Linked DNA regions of Homo sapiens: region 1 is linked to region 2. Evidence: fine-mapped QTL for protein levels in blood plasma. Region 2 holds a variant in brackets. A gene starts in the other region. All regions are shown on one strand. Distances are from middle to middle. Region 1 holds the start of ACAN (aggrecan). Region 2 overlaps CEMIP (cell migration inducing hyaluronidase 1).

The links. PIP is the chance, under the fine-mapping model, that this variant and not a neighbour inherited with it causes the effect. The UK Biobank Pharma Proteomics Project read protein levels with antibody pairs (Olink). The fine-mapping took linkage between variants from a reference panel, not from the people measured, so its PIPs are less certain.
Region 1: it holds the start of ACAN, and the variant in region 2 is fine-mapped to the plasma level of the ACAN protein (UK Biobank, PIP above 0.99).

What each region holds. Positions count from the first base shown.
Region 1 is chr15:88,796,201-88,804,499 of GRCh38, reverse strand. ACAN (aggrecan) reads right to left here and starts at 1,064. Exons shown (of 19, transcript NM_001369268.1): 1 at 691-1,064. LOC105370960 (a long non-coding RNA gene) reads left to right here and starts at 982. Exons shown (of 3, transcript XR_001751648.1): 1 at 982-1,050; 2 at 5,696-5,844; 3 at 6,596-8,038.
Region 2 is chr15:80,943,868-80,952,196 of GRCh38, reverse strand. It overlaps CEMIP (cell migration inducing hyaluronidase 1), which reads right to left. Exons shown (of 30, transcript NM_001293298.2): 29 at 5,132-5,232; 30 at 426-3,400. The coding sequence ends at 3,273. It also overlaps a transcript of MESD not described here. Among named protein-coding and RNA genes, the nearest start is that of MESD, 42 kb to the left of the region's middle. The variant TTCA/A (reference allele first, on the strand shown) is at 3,289.

The sequences.
Region 1 (8,299 bases), 7.9 Mb before region 2:
CTTCTTGGTTGGACACCCGTGTGTTCAGGGCACTGCTCTCCTCTCCCCTGCTGGCAGTTCAGTAGCTCTGTCCCAGGTTCTGCCACTCTCCCCTGGGCAGACTCTTCAGGCACTCTGGTCCCTGGAGTAAGCCAAGTGGCCAAGGATGGACTATCTAGCCTCGGCTTAGGACCCGCTGTGTCCCTGACATAGTGTCCATATGATTTCATTTATTCTTCCAGACCCCGCGAAGGCCTTTTCCCTCTCAGCTGACAGACGGCAGGCCAAGGCTCAGGAAGGTGAAGCACACCTTCCAGCTCAAAAGTAGCACCTCGGGGATTTGAACCCACATTCCCTTGACTCTGAAGCTGCTACTCTGTCAACCATGGGTCTTTCCAGACCCTAGGATTTAAAATCACCTAGGTGTTTGGAGAAAAGGCTCCCTTGTTCCTTCATCCTGGCGGACTAGGAGACAAGTGCCCCTCCTCACGTGTTCCTTTGCCCCATTCACTGAGTCTGCAACAGCCAAAAAGTTTGCTCAACTCCACCGCGGACGCAGCCGGTGGATGTGCTGCGCCCCCGGCACACATAGCTCTAGGGCGGAGACCAAGGCAGTGCAGCCCCCAGCCCCGGGGCGTGCAGTCTCAGTCCCGTTCCTGGCTCGCCGGGCGCCCTGGGAGAGCCTCGCTCTGGAGGGAAGGAGACAGTTACCTTGAAGAGTTGGACTCCCTTCTCCAAGAACTTCAGTCCCACACACCTGGCGAGGCAGCTGGGGGCTCCTGGGGCCGGGAGGCCCGGGTCTCGCTGCGTAGCGAGGGAGACGCTCTGCGCGGGCGCTGCGCACCCCTCCTCCTGCCGGCGTCCTGTCCGCAGGTCCCCTCGGGCTGTGGCCGCAGCGGCAACTGCTGGGTTGCGGAGTCCTGGCTGGCTGAGGGAATGGACACTGAAAGGTGCCCGGAGACCCTGGCACCCGCGTCAGACGCCGGCCGGCGAGGGTGCTGAGAGAGAGAGACCTTGAGCAGCGCTGCGCGCGTCCTCAGCTCTGCGAGCCCCCTCTGGAGCGGCGGGGAGGTAGGTGGGCGGGCGGGCGGGCATGGCGCGCTGTGACACATACATAGGGACGGGCGGGGGAGGGGAGGGCCCGTGAGGGGTGGGGGCGGGAGGGGGCGAGCGCAAAGGGAAACCCCACCCCCAGGGACCGAGGGGCGGCCGACAGGGGGAGGGGAAGGCAGAGGCGTCTGGAGCGCGCTGGACCCTGGCTCCGGACCGGCGCGCCGATGGGGAAGCCGGCCTGCGCTCAGGGCGGGAGAGGAGCGCTCCCCGGGGCGGCGCGGACCCGGCAGCTCCGGGGCTGGCGGGAGGAAGGCGGCGCGAGAAGGGCTGGAGGGCCCGCATCTGCATTGCGGTCGGCAGCTCCGCAGTCGGAGGGGCCCAGGAGGGCTGCACCCTCAGAGAATCCCCAAGTGCCCGGACTCTGAGGCCGCCGCGGCGGGACAGGGCTCCCGGGCGCCCGGCGGGGTTCTGCAGCTGAGGCTGGCCACGACGCGATCTAAGGAGGGTGCAGCCCGCTACTGTCGGCCACGATTTGGAACGACCCTCACCGAGGAGCTGGCTGAAAGTTTTTTTGGGGGTGGCGTACACCGGGATGGCAGGGGATGGTGGAGAGGGGGAGGTAAGGCGTCAGCGGGGAGGCTCACGGGGAGCTGCGAGTCTCTGGGTCTTCAAATTCCCCGGGAGAGACCAAGGACATCTCATATGAAGCAGGAATTCTCCAGTGTCTCTACAGTACTCTTTAATACCGTTTTCAGGAAAAGGAGAAAAAGAACTAGCAGCTTTTGAATCCCTCCTATGAGCCCGTTGTGTAACATACATTAACATTTCATTTAATTTTTCCAAAGAGCCCAACAAGGTAAATATGGCAACTTCCCACCTGCCCCTAACCAAAGATGTGAAAACTGAGGCTCAGAAAGTGGTGGAGATCCCTCTTGAAGGTGGGACTGAGTTCGAGTCCCAGGTCTTGTGCTCTCTGCTACACAGGCTGCTGGTTGAGCCACAGCACCTTCGGAGGACTCAAGCTGGCTGGTGACCTTCAGAGTTCTTGTGGAGGAAGCTGGTGGTGCTTCACACCAGGATGTGGTGGCCACAGTCAGGATGGTGGTGGAAGCTTCCTGACCCTCTCATTGGGCAAGAAGAGGAAGAAGTGGAATCTTTCGGGACTCCCCACTACAGAGATAATAGACCACACTTTAATCAGTTCCTTGATGAAAAGGAACTGAAGTGCCTCGGTTTCCCCAGGGCGACTCCACTGGAATTATGTGGTTATTTTACTGGCCATCTCTGCCTGGGGGCGGGACTGGCCCTGGCCCAGCACATGCTCTGTGAGCCGCCTGTCTCTCCCCTGTCCAGGGCAGTGAAGCCCCGTCGGAGGGAGCATAGTGCCCACTCTATCCACCCACCTCTCAGAGCAATGGCTAAAGTGTTCCAGTGGTTGGCCATTCTTGATTTCACCCTTTTTCTACCTGAGCGTATTGAGTCAGGTCTGTAAGTCTTGAAGCATTTAGGACACAGACAAAATGCTGGTGACCGAAGCCCCTTAGGGGGTGATAGTGGCTTCTCTCACAGATAAAGAAATGAGATGAGGCCGGGCGCAGTGGCTCACGCCTGTAATCCCAGCACTTTGGGAGGCCGAGGCGGGCGGATCACGAGGTCAGGAGATGGAGACCATCCTGGCTAACACGGTGAAACCCCATCTCTACTAAAAATACAAAAAAATTAGCCGGGCGTGGCGGCGGGCGCCTGTAGTCCCAGCTACTCAGGAGGCTGAGGCAGGAGAATGGCGTGAACCCGGGAGGCGGAGCTTGCAGTGAGCTGAGACGGCGCCACTGCACTCCAGGCTGGGCGACAGAGCAAGACTCCGTCTCAAAAAAAAAAAAAGAGATGAAATCTTAATAGTTACTGGCCTCAATGCCTGGAACAGGGAGAAATGACCCTCTGGGAAAAAAACAGTCCCTGAAATTCCAACGAGGTCATGGATTCTCATGCCTGTGTTTACCTGATGCCTTGTGGGAGAACAAATTGCTCTCATTTGTAAAATGGGTTCATGTCAACATTCATCCTAGGGCAGGTGGGGTTAATGAAGAACAAGTCAAGGGCAAATATTAATTAGGCGATTTATCTTTGTATTGAAGGGAACAAATGTTTATTGATCATCTGGTTTTGTAATGAGTCTAAGAAACATATATTGGGCACCTATTATGTGTCAGATGCTGCTTGGTACAGCAGCCTCTCAGATGGATGCCATTCCCATTTACACACTAAGAAACCAAGACTCAGAGGCCATCAAGGTAGTGAATGGGATTGGAGTACAGGCTGGTATGAATTCACACTCCCTAGCCCTAAAGGATACAAAAAACCCAGGATAATGGCAACGCATTTGGACACTTTAAAGACAGTATTCAGAGAGTCAAAGGACATGCGTGTCAGAAGGCCCTTGGTGGCATACACAGGCTCTTCCTGTCCAACTCAGGAGCTCTGTTCCAGTGTAATATTTCTGAAGCTGGTCATCTCCTCTTCTGCTAGAATACTTTACAGTTGCCTAATGCCTTTTCCAGGCTGCCCGATGCAGTCTGCTGTAAACTGGCAATTTCTAACCTCTTGCTGCTCAGAGTATGTTCTATAGACTGGCAGTGTCACCTGGAAGCTTATTCAAAATGCAGAATGCCAGGTTCCCCAGACCTACTGACTCACAATCTGCATTTTAACAAGATCCCTCCCGTGTTGTATATGCCTGCTGAAGTTTGAGAAGCACTGTGCTGACATCATTCAGCAGGTTCTACTCATTCAATCACAAATCACAGAATAAGAGAATCTCAGAGCTGGGAAGAGCTCTTGGAGAACTTTAAGGACACCCCTCCATAGAGTATGTCAGTCCTGTCCATGATGTTTCCCTCAAGTAGGACATCAGACTCTGCTTGGATGTGGCCATGAGTTTGACTCCCTTCTGAGGCCACATCCATTTTTTTCACGTGGTTCTTGTATTTAGGCAGCTTTCAGCTTTCACAGAAGCTCATGCCCAATACTGTGGATTCAGCAGTGAACAAGACAGGCCCATTTCCATCCCCCCAACCCTAACCTGTCCCAGGACCTCCTGCCACGTGATAAACCTTTCTGTTTGGAATCAGTGATCTCAAGTCTCTCCCTTCTCCCTTTTGGATTGGGTCCAGAGGAGAGCTCACCTCAATAACCTGGGTCCTGTGCTTCTGGTAATGCAGCCAACATTTATGTGCTTTTATGACAGCCTCATCATGACTCATTTGGAGCCTGCAGCCAGCTCAGACTTCCTTTTCACAGTGCTTCTGCCACCTAGCATCTCCTTTGGCTTATCCTGGTACAATGGGTTTTTCCAATCCAAGTGTGGGGCTTCATTTTTGCTTCTTTTAAACATTACACTAACTAATTCAGTTTACTACTTCAGATCATCTTGGATTCTGACTCTATTATTCTGTGTGTTTGCCATTCCTCTTAGCAGCAGACATTCTACAAAGCTAACTAGTGTGCCACTTCTATGTTTTCATTCAGGCTGCTCATAAAAATATTGCCTGGGACGGAGATTAGGGCTGAGTTCTAGAGCAGAGCACTAGAGACAGCCCCCCTGGAATGAACGACATAATCCGATATTCCAGTTATAATGGCTGTGTAACAAATCACCTCAAAACTGAGTGTCTTAAAACAATAGTTATTTAATATCTCTCATGGTTTCTATGGATCGGGAATTTGGGAGAAACTTCGCCAGGCAGTTCTGGCCTGGACTAGCTCTTGAAGTTGTAGTCAGATGTCAGTTACAGCTGCAGTTAGCTGAAAGCTTGACTGGGGCTTGAGGATCCATGTCCAAGGTGGGTCGCTCACGTGATTGGTGAATTGGTGCTGGCTGCTGGCCAGTGACCTCATTTCATCTCCATAGGGCCTCCCGATGGAGCTGCTTGAGTGTCCTCATGACATGGCAGCTGGCTTCCACCACAGTGAGTGACACAGGGAGTGCAGTGCTTCTGTGTCATAGCTTTGGAAGTCCCACACAGGGCCAGCCCTGAACTAGTGTGGGAGGGTCATACAGGATGTGAATACCAGGGGATGGGGATCACTGGGGGCATCTTGGAGGCTGGCTTCTACACTCCATTAAACTAACTCATAGAGCATGGCCAGTCCCCCCATCCATCTGACTGTATTACCATGGAGTGCTTATTTCTGTCCCATACATGGGGACACCATGAAGGTACCTTGCTAAGTCCCAATATAAGGTGCTTGCAGAATTCCTCTGAAGCATTCATTCCAAACTCTTTTACAAGTGAGTGGCCCAATTCTGCTCTCTAGAGCAACACAGTCTGCCCCCATTTCAACAGGGGCAGCCTCCAGTTAGTGCAGGAGGGTTCTCACATCACCCTTCATGTCTCTCCTCACAGGGTCTTTGACTGTTTCCCAAGGGAGTGTTCTTCTGGAGTTTGCTTCTGGATTCCTCACTCTCTGCGAACCTTGTTTGTGGATGCCCCTCAAAAATGCAATGCCCGGCATTAGATGCACAAGCCCAGGTGTGGACTGATTAGAGGGGAGCCAGGACAACTCTTTTCTCTAACCATTTGGATATTCTGCTCCTACCGGTATGGCCAAACATCGTTGAGTTTCAGAACTACATCTCACTGTTGCTTGATATTTAATCTTGCAGGCAATTAAAATGAAGACTGTTTCCATGCGGGCCCCCGTGAAAGGGATTCCTGTGTATCTCAAGCAACAAAGAGAGCTGTGGAGCAAGGAGATTCCCTGTGTAATCGGGAGCACTGGATGTGAATCCCAGGTCTGGCATGGGAACCTTGGGTGAGTTTCTTAACCTCTCTGGATTTTGGTTTCACATCTGTAAAATGGAGCTATCTTATGGAATTGTTGTGAGAATTAAAATAAGATATGGAATGTCAGCCCCTAGTAACTGATCTGGCTCAAAGTGCAAGGATGGTTAATTTTCTTCCTTCCCCCTAGCCCCCACAATTTGGTGTGCCTGAGTAAGTACATTCTCTCCTGTGTGCTGTTTTCTGTGTTTGTAAAAGAAGCTAAAAATACCCACCTCATAGGAGTGTGGCAACAATGAATACTATATGTAATATGTGTAGAGAACGTTGTGATCCTTTTTGGAAGCAAAGGGCCATAGAAACATGATATAGAAAAGCCTTCTTATAGCAGAACTGGGCCAGGGAGTGGAGTCTAGTGAGAACTAGTGGAACACTTGAAAAGTGCTGTTTTATTACTTTAACACTGTACTAGTGGCAAAGTAGGAGGGAAATGTTATAATAAAGAACATGGAGACAGTTAATGAAACACTCACAAGCCTCCACGGGTCTGTGTGGAATAATGACATACAGTAACGGGAAAGTGCTGTGTCACCAAAGACATAGAAATTGAAGGGCACGTTTAAGGAAACTCTCTTAAAGCTTCAGTTTCAATTTTTTTTTTCTGAATTCATAGCAGATTCTTATTTTTAGTAAAACCCTACCATTTATAAAAGAGGAAATTATGGCAAGCATTTTATTCATTACTCACTAGTGTTTTTTTTTTTATCATTGAGAATACTCAGTGAGTGATGCTGAGTGGAATGTTACGTATCACCATCATCATCAGCATCCATCCCACCACCATCATCACAACCACCACCACCACCATCATCATCATCATCATCATCAACAGCTTTTTCCAAGCAAGTCTGGAATAAGAAGAGAAGTCGGAGGATTTAGGCTTTGTACTTCCTGGCAGCCCCAGCCCCTGAGGCTCATGCGATCCTGCTCACCTTCTCTCCCTGACCCCGAACCCTAAGGGGCTCCCGCACTCCAGATCGTAGCTGGCTCTTCTCTATTCTTTTCCTTATTCCAGCCATTAGAGTCTTTTGGGACTGGCTTCTCAACCTTTGTCACATTGGGCTTGATATTTTTAGTTTCTTTCAGTGGTAAATATTAGATTATTCAGAAAAATTGTTGTCCCAGATTTCCACACATGATGGTATAGATACAGAATATACACTTATAAAATAAGCAGAAATGATATCTCATGAACATTTGCTAGAATTGAAATAGAAGAGGTGCAGGCAGCATCCCCATAGCTTAAAAATGATCTGCTAAGATGTGGGCATGACTTTTCCCCACAAAACTTGCCACTCATTTGATATTATAGTGCGGGGGAATAGTCTTCCTGACATTTTAGTGGTTGTTATTGCTGTATTTTTTTTTTAGGGCATATTTTTTTAAGGGGAGAAAATGAAGAATATGTAAGGAAAAAAATCAGTACTTAGCTGGGTTACCTTTTATTCTTAGGACATTTACTTGTTAGCATTACAGTCTTAAAATAGTCTTCTACCAAATACATTACCAACAGGCATTTCCAAAATGCTGAGAGTACTCTATCTAGTCTCAAATTCTCAAGTTCAAAAAAATGGAATGCCAGTTCCTCCATGGGCTGACACAGCCTCATTATTATGGCCATATTTATTTACTTATTTATTGTAGTAAAATATACATAATATAAAATTCATCATTTAAACCATTTTAAGCATACAGTTCAGTGCCTTTAAGTACATTCACATTGTTATATAATCATCACTACTATCCATCTTCAAAACTTTTTTTATCTTCTGCAATGAAAACTATGTACCCATTTAATAATAATTCCTAATTACCCCTACCCTCTGCCCGTAGCCACCACCATTCTACTTTGTGTCTCTATGAATTTAACTACTGTCAGTACCTTATGTAAGTGGATTAGCGCCAAATTTGTCTTTTTGCGATTGGCTTAGTCACTTAGCATCATGTCTTCCAGGTTCAGTCATATTGCGGCATATGTCAGGATTTTCTTCCCTTTAGGGTAACACTTATTGAGCTCTTACTGCCTACCAGGCCTTGTGCTATGCGCTTCAACAGACCTCACAATCACCCTATGAGGTAGGGAGTCTCACTAACTCCATTTCACAGATGAAGAAACTGAAGACAGGAATGTTTAGAAAGCTGCCTGATATGGTTTAGCTCTGTGTCCCCACCCAAAACTCATGTTGAATTGTAATTCCCAGTGTTGGGGGAGGGACCTGGTGGAAGGTGATTGGATCGTGGGGGTGGATTTCCCCCTGGCTGTTCTCGTGATAGTGAGTGAGTTCTCACAAGATCTGATGGTTTAAAAGCGTGTAGCACCTCCCCCTGCACGCTCTCTCCTGATCTGCAATGGTCAGCTGTGCTTGCTTCCCCTTCGCCTTCCACTATGACTGTAAGTTTCCTGAGGCCTTCCCAGTCATGCTACC
Region 2 (8,329 bases):
ATGCTCTTGTCAAACGTGTTTGGCCTCCAGCCAAACAGGGCCTGGGAGGAAAAGAGAGTCCTGCTTCTGCCTGGCTTCCCCATCGGGGAGGGGAGTTGAAGTGACAGCCTCCTGACAGCTTAGAAATGTGGAGGACGCAGCAAGTTCTGGACATGGCCAGCCATATGAATGATATCTTCTCTTTCTTTGAACCATCTCCACCTGCTCTTATGGACACCCCGCCTTGGGGCAAGGCAAGGTAGGATCTTGACATATGACTAGCTCTTGGGAATAAGGCCATGGAAGTAAGGCAGACACATGGGGTGATTTCATCAGCCTTATTATCCTTAGATAACTGTTTATCTTAGGTTATCCTTAGATAAGTTATTATCCCTAGATAAAATGAAGCCCATTTTAATAGAAAATGAAACAAACAGACAAGATGATGACATCCTTTGTATGTTTACTATAATAACAGCAAAATTTTTCCAAACCAGAGCCAATTTCCTTGGCTCTAGGTACACCCCTTCCAAGCAATGCAAAGGACATCTCCAATCATGACATTTAAGACAATTCTTTATTTCTCTGACAGTGACTTCTTGAAGTGCACATATAATAAATAAATAGAAAATATATCTTTGTTCATGGTGATGCCTACAAGAAATGTTTACATACAAACACTCTATACATCTAACTCCCGAAAAAGGACCAGCTATTTCGGCAACAGAAAAAAGACAAGCATTTCAGAGGAGCGTTGCTTTCCTTAAAGACCTAACTCACTTAAGTCTTACAAACAGAAATAACAAGGAGGACAATTTTCTAAGCAATAAGAAAATTTGTGCTACCAAGAAAATGCCTAGATATTGGCTCTTGGTGAATGGTTTAGGAAAGAAACTTTTATGTACAGATCCTGTACTGTGAAACATATGTACAACTCTGAGAACTTTCAAATAGATATCTTTTTTAAATGAACTGAGCCAAAGACATTCAACATTCCTGGCCACCTGAAAGTGATCACATCCTAAGTGGTTCACAGTGTGAGACCCTTGCATTAGAAGAGTGAAAACTCAACAAAACCGTGGACAAGAAGGACATGAGGTCATTTTAACTCTCCTCTCCATCACCACTAATCTCCCTGGAAGAAGTCCTTCCTGTGACTCTGGCCTTTGAAGCAGCCATATCTTTAAAAGCAGAGCCCTATGGTCACCTCCCAGCAGCTGAAAGATGTTTGGTGGGAAAGACCTCCCTGACAGTTGGCTCCCACCTGGGGAATGGACTCTTGGACCGAGTCTCATGGGTGCAGTTGGGTGGAGGGAGCCAGGCAGGCCCTCTTTGAAGGAAAGAGTTTGTGGTTGGGGCAGGAAAGGGGATAAATGTAGTTCATCACAAGACCCAGGGAGACTCTGGTGCCTCGTGCAAGATTATAAACCACAGATAGAGTTCTCCCTCTTACAGGAGCTCTTTGGGCTCTCTATAAGGTGGGCCAGGGAGAGAGCAGGGCATTAAGCAGCAGCTGAAAGGGACTGGGGTGGACCCAATAGCTGTTCAGACACCCAAGATCAGCCAAATTGGCTCACCAGAAACATGGCGAGCCCTACTCCCTCTGCTGGGCCTCACCTGTAGAGCTGCAGAGACAGGAGAGCCAGGTAGCACCAATGGGGAGTTGCAGCTACTGTGCACCCAGGCTGGGCTGACAGGTAGTGAACAAAGTGAAGGCCACAGGGACCGCCAACACCAAGGGGAGGGCGGGTTTGTGTGCGCTGGGAGCAGGAGGGAAGAGATCTGCTAGCTGTCATTCTACTCTAGTCATTTCCTTTCCTTCGAGGGGACTTGTCCCCATTTCCAGAAGCTACCTCAGGAGTGCCTGGGCACTCTGGGGCCGGTTGTTGAGGCAATGTGGTGTGGCAGCAAGGGCTAGGGTGGGGCTCCCCAGGCCCTCCCTTAGCTGTGTGGTTCTTTCCCATCTTGGGGGCTCACTTTCCCCATCTGTTAAAATGAAGGCTTTGGGCTAGATATTTTCTATATTTCCAGCTCTGAAATCCCAGGCCGAGGGAGTACGAGCACATCTAGGGTCTCCTGGAGGCCCCCTGTGCTCAGTTCCCTGGATGAAGAGCAAATGAGGCCCTAAGGCAGGAGCTCACTTCTGTGGACTTCACCCTCTTGGAGTCAGAGGCAGGGCTGCCTGGGGACTGAATTCCTCTGTGCTCATAAGCAGCAAAGCCCATTGCTCCCCTCTGACCACACTTCTCCATCATGAGTGGGCCAGAGAGACGTGAGCAAAGGGCGACCCCGTAGTCACCAGCTTCAGCAGGCAGCGGCAGGGAGGGCTGAATCCCTGAGCCATTCCAGAGGCTGCCTCATCTCCCCCCAGCAAAATGCCCCCAGCCTTCATTCCTGTAAGCAAGAAGCCTTCCTGAGCCTCCCCTCTGAAATGGCACTGGCCTCCATTTTACCTCTCTGTGATTTCTCCACCTGGCATTGCAGTGCACATGGACCTGACTGCCTGCCCTACTGGACTGCAGACCCCTCAAGCTAGGCATTAGTTCTCACCTCTCCATCCCGTGTGCGCTGGGGCACCCAGCATCATGGATATCAGTGGATATCCATGAACTGTTGGGTTCCAGGTACCATGTGAAATGCAGCAGATTTCTGGAATCTCAGAACTAAAAGGGCCTTTGAGAGTCATCTAGTCCAAGTCCAAACCTGCCACTCAAAGTCTCCTGAAAGGTGGACACGGCCAGAGGCAGGGCTTGCCTCTTCCCCAAGGATAGCCAGTTCTACCCCAGCTCCTAATCCTGTGAGGTTGGCTCTTGCTTACAGGAGTAAAGATTTCCTTAAGGCCAAGGCTCTTTCTCCTACATTTACCACCCTCACTTGTCTGCTGAAGACCATGGGGATCTGTGAATGACCAGCCCTCCAGACTACCTCCTAGCTGGGTCAGGGCTCCTGCCAAAGTGGATCTTTGCTGTCAGCACAACCCAGGTCTCCTGATATGGTCCCCAAACCCCCACTGAAGAGGCACAGATAGGAGAGAAGCACCCAAGAGGCTGCAGGAAAGTGAATGTTTCCAGCATTGGCCAGCACCGCCCCAGGGGCTCCAGGTAGACACTTGAGTAGGGGCAGGTGGCAGCACCAGGGTCTCTGATAGCCTTCCCTTGGCCCATCAGGGCTGAAACACGGCCTTCCCAGGCAGCTGCTGGCAGGGGCTGGGGGACCCAGCCATCCCCCACTGGTCTGCTGCCAAGAGTCACCGTCATAGTCTACCACGAGGTGGCACCGGGCGGCAGCTGTCCTCACAACTTCTTCTTC[TTCA/A]CCACAGGGATGGGCACAACTTGGAAGATTTTGGCTTTGTGATCCTCAGTGTCCAGTGTCACCCAGATGGGCCGGAAGCTGCCTTTGAAGCCAACGAATGCCATTTGCTCTGAAAAGCAATGATGAGTCTCCTGAGCAAAAGCCCTATGAGAGGACGGCTGCCCCACCCCGTTCCATGGCTCCCCATCGCCAGCCCCCCACGCCCACCAGGTACCGCCTAGCCACACTGCACTGTGGCCCCTTGGGAAGAGCTCTGTGCTCAGCTACTGATGGTGCCTGACATGTGTTTGTATGGGGCAGGCAGGGTCTCACCTGAGCCTCACTGCCACCTAGGCAGGGTGATGGCTTTGTTGTAGACAGGGGAGCCATGCACAGCAGGAAATGGGGCAAACTGTAAGGGAGGAGACCTCCTAGGAACCTGCCTACCTTTGAGCTGCCCCTAGGACAACCAGCAAGTCCCTGCCCCTCTCTGAAGCCCAGTGTTCCCATCCATCAAATGATGGCATTGATCTACAAGATCTCCTTCCCCACTCTATCACTCTGTGGCTCTAGAAAGAGTTCTGAGAGGTGAAGAAATTTGACCAAGAGTGTGGAGTAAATGGTGCACCCCAGATTAGAACTCTAAACCCCTGAAACCCACACAGCACTCTCCATCTTGCAGTTCACAGCTTGAGCATCCGAGGGGCATGGGAATCCACGTCTATACTCAGCCCATCTTGGCAGGCAACATGCATTTATCACCACCGGGAAAGTGCCATTCAACTTAGGTCACCTTACATACATCAGCTTTTGGCAACCGGGATCTTAATTTAAAAGACAGAGGCTCCAAAATGATTTCAGGACTGGGCTGGAAAGGATACTTCTCTTTTCCTTATGTCCTCCTTTGGCTGGTTTGAAGGGTTTGCATTGCTTCTGATTTTTCTCATTGCCCCATATGATGGGTTTCTGATTTTGATGTTTTCCATAGTGAGGATGGTGTATAACTAAGAAGCCCAGCTTTGAGTTAGGAAGATTAGGATCCAAGTCCTAACCTTAAGCAAGTGGCTTGGCTGTTAAATTCTTGGTGTCCTCATCTTAAATGGAAATAATAGTACCTGCTGCACAGGTTATTAATGAGTAAGTGAGATAATTATAACATGTTGTGCAAAGTGCAAGGCTGAACATTGAATAGCAACCACAATGATCATTATCATTATTGCCCGTGGAGCTTCTCTGCCGCCCATACAGCCTCTCTGAGGACTCTCCCTGCACCTAGTTTTTGTGATGATAATGGGTGTCATGCTGACATGTCCCTCCTGGATGGCTTCTTCCAGCACAGCCAGCAAGCCTGTGCTAGGCTTCACCACCGAAGCTGCCTGGCCTTGGACAAGCCATGTAGGTTCTCTGGGCTTTAGTTTTCTGGAACAAATAAGAGTTTTGCAAGCTGCAAAGGACTGTACAAACGCTAGGCATCAGCTAGAATGTTGAAGAAGATGCAGGACCCCTGGCCAGTCTGAATAGCAGGAATTGGGTAGGAGGGTGAGACTAAGCCACTTTTCTTATGATACTTTTGTTGAATAAAGGGCCACTTTCCAAGCAAATGAGTCAACAAATATAGCAATTTTCTTTCAGTGGCTGGTGGCAAGTTATAATAAATTTGCTGCAGTGCAGGGGTGGTAAACAGGTGGCATCTTGCCCATCCATTCCAGTAGACCACTAGTTGTGTGGGGGATTCTTAGGTTGTACCCACGTTTAGTACAAAGCATGTTCTCAACTCAGCAAAAGATGACAGCACCCTCCATGCCAGGCATTTGCCTTCTCTGGTTTTGGGGTCAGTTTAAACCCCAGTTCAAACCCTTACCTTTCAACTTGAGACCCCTGTCTGCCCCAAGCTTTTCCAGCACTCTGGTCCATGGGCCTCTGGAGACGTATCTTCCCTTTGATGCCATAAGCACTATGGAACTGTGTGAGAAGAAACCAATTAGACCAGAGGGAGAGAGCAAACTGGAGAAAGTGGGCATGGGGAGGGATGTTGGTTTGTGCATGGTGGGACTGGAGTTAGCAGTGCCCAGAGGCCTGTCCAGGGATTCGGGAAAGGGCAGCCTCTCCTGTGTTCTGAGCTGACGGGCTCTTTCCATGTGGTGACGAACATCCTGAGCTCCCTCCCACACATCTGGCCACAGTTGGTGCCCACAGCCTTCTCCAAGCCTGGACTTGGCTCACCGCGTTTACATGTCTCTCTCCAAACAGAGGAGAGGATGTAAGCAGAGCGTACCATGCCAGGGCTCGGCACACAGTAGGACTTCGATATGTATCTCTTCCCTTGAATGTTCTCAACCCTGGTTAGGTAAGACCAGATAGAAATGTGGTGATGGAGGAAGGAAGGAGAAAGGGAAGAGAAAGAGAGGAGGTGCGGGAAGGCGGAGGGGAGCATCTGTCAAATCATAAAACCATCCAGGAGCTCCTGAAGGTTCTAGATCCTGAAGGTTCTAGAGACCAGCTCCATTTGGCATCCCCTGGGATTTCATTAGAACCACAGAATTCCTCCATTGCAGACTTCCTGAATCAGAATCTGCATTTTTACAAGATCTGCAGGTGATCATGTATACATTAAAGCTCGAGAAGCCCCATGCTAGAAGATTTCTCTTGGAGCGCATCTTTCTTTTGCTGTCTTCTTTTGATGGACACAGGCTTAGTGTAGTCCAGAGCCAGCCTTCTCTGAGCTGCAGGAAGAGCATGGCCAGGTTTGAAGTCTTTCTGGGAGAACACCATGTCGTTACCATGATGCTCGGGTTGTACCAAGAGCTCAGATTGACCTCTTACGTTCACGTCACCTCTCTCTGGTTAGGCAACACAGGGCTATTGCCTCTATTTTGCAAATGGGGAGATTGAAGCAAATAGTTACCAAGTATCTCAGAGGACCTACCAAAGGGAAATGTGCTTGAAAGACACAGAGGTTTGGAGCAATGTGTGCACCCAGCCTGAAGGTCCCAAATTGCAAAAGTTCGACTTGGGAATAAGGAGTGTCTATCCCCTGCCTCGGGGTGTATTCAGTCCAAAGTGCTGGGAAAATAGCCTTCACAGTGGCAGACTCAGCACACTGGGCCAGATAGGAGGAAGTGAGCACCTCCCTTGGGAATAGAAATGGGGCAGAAGCTCAATGGGGCGTCCAGTTTGTATCTCAAAGGAACTCTGTAACCACAGACCACAGTCCAGACATGGAAAAACTGTATAGGATTCTGGAACCTGTTGTTACCCCCATTTGTGTCCCACTGGGAACAGCGGGAAAGATCTTAAGATGCGAAGGGCTTGTGTGAAATAAGGATAGATGGGAAGGGAGCTGGGGCTGCCTCAGGCCCTTGAGGAAGGCTGGAGAGGGAGGCCCAAAGGGTTGGTAGGGTGAGGCCCCTTAAGGAGACAGGTCTCATTGCTAACACATCCTCCACTCTAGATTCAGGATCTGTTCTCAGGAGGATATTTCTGCATTGTTTCATTTCAGAACAAAAGCTAATGGTCCTTTGTTGGAGCTCAGCCTTCCTACTTGGGGGACTCAAATGTAGGTCTTGCCCTCCTGATGGGGATCTAAGTTAGCTCACAGGAGCGGGACAGAGAGATGGGCTTCTTGTGTCCCCACCCCTTCCCACTGATGCCCAGAAGCCTGCCTACCTATGTTGGGAACACTTCTTTGCCTGGTGTGCCATCCTCATGGCCTATAAGCCCATGCCCCAGCCAGCACAGTCTCCCACAGAGTGGCAGTGCAGAGGCAGCTCCCAGAAGCCATGCTAGATGTTTCTGGTGTGAGCAGCTGCCCTCTTCTCTCCCCAGGACCCTGGGGCCAGTAGTGGCCTGCTGGATGGGGTAGGAAGCATGGGCCAGGCTAGGCAGGGCCCGCAGCCACAGTAGAACAGGATCTACCTTGCCTCATTCCCTGCTGCTTTCCAGGAGGTTAGAGAGGGGTCTAGTGGTACCAATGCCTGCCTGGGTGCCCAGCGCCAGCCCAGGGAGTGGCCCATTCCAGTAAGGGCTTCCCCCAGAGAGGTGCTGCTGCTCGGGCTGGTGGGAGCCTTGCACATGGTTCCAAACAGAGTAGCACTGCAGTCTAGTTTCTTATTCCAAGCTTCTGCATCATCTTTCATTTCAAAAGAAAATTCTCTGCCCAAAACGTCATGATCTCTAGAGGATAACTATTTTTCCCAATTTGGTCAACCTTGTCCTCTGTCTGAATCTGCATATGAAAAATAGAATGCCGAAGAAGCATCTGATGGGGGAATGAGGGAGGGAGTAAATGTGGTTAAGCAAAATCCCATTATCCAAAATCTCGCCAGGTGCCCAGTTCACGTCGTGCCCCTCATGGAGTCAGCATCTGGGAAGTACATTTGCTTTCATTTAATAACTATTAATGTTTACTAAGCACCTACTATGTAGCAGGTACCACATGAAGCGCTTAGACTTTCCACCAGGTTGTGGCTCCTGAGTGAACTGTACACTCACTTAACTAGCCATGTTCTGTGCTAGAAATGCAAAGGGAAGTTAGACATGGCCCCAACATTGAGAAGGCCACACTCTTGATGGGGCAACAGATGTGTCCACCAGACCTATTGTGAGTAGTGCTTTAGCAGAGGTAGAACTTTTATTTTTTATTTTTTTGAGACGGAGTCTTGCTGTGTCACCCAGGCTGGAGTGCAGCTGCGCAATCTCGGCTCACTGCAACGTCCGCCTCCTGGGTTCAAGCGATTCTCCTGCCTCAGCCTCCTGAGTAGCTGGGACTACAGGTGTGCACCACCACACCCAGCTAATTTTTTTGTACTTTTAGTAGAGATGGGGTTTCACCATATTGGCCAGGCTGATGTCAAACTCCTGACCTCATGATCCACCCACCTCGGCCTCCCAAAGTGCTGAAATTACAGGTGTGAGCCAATGCGCCCTGCCAAGGTAGAACTTTTGGGTTGGATCGGAAAAGACCTCACCGAGGAGGCGATGTGGGGAGACTTGTAAGGTACTGGGGAATTACCAAAGTTTGCTAAGGAGAGGGGACACAGGTTTTCCCTACATTTAAGAA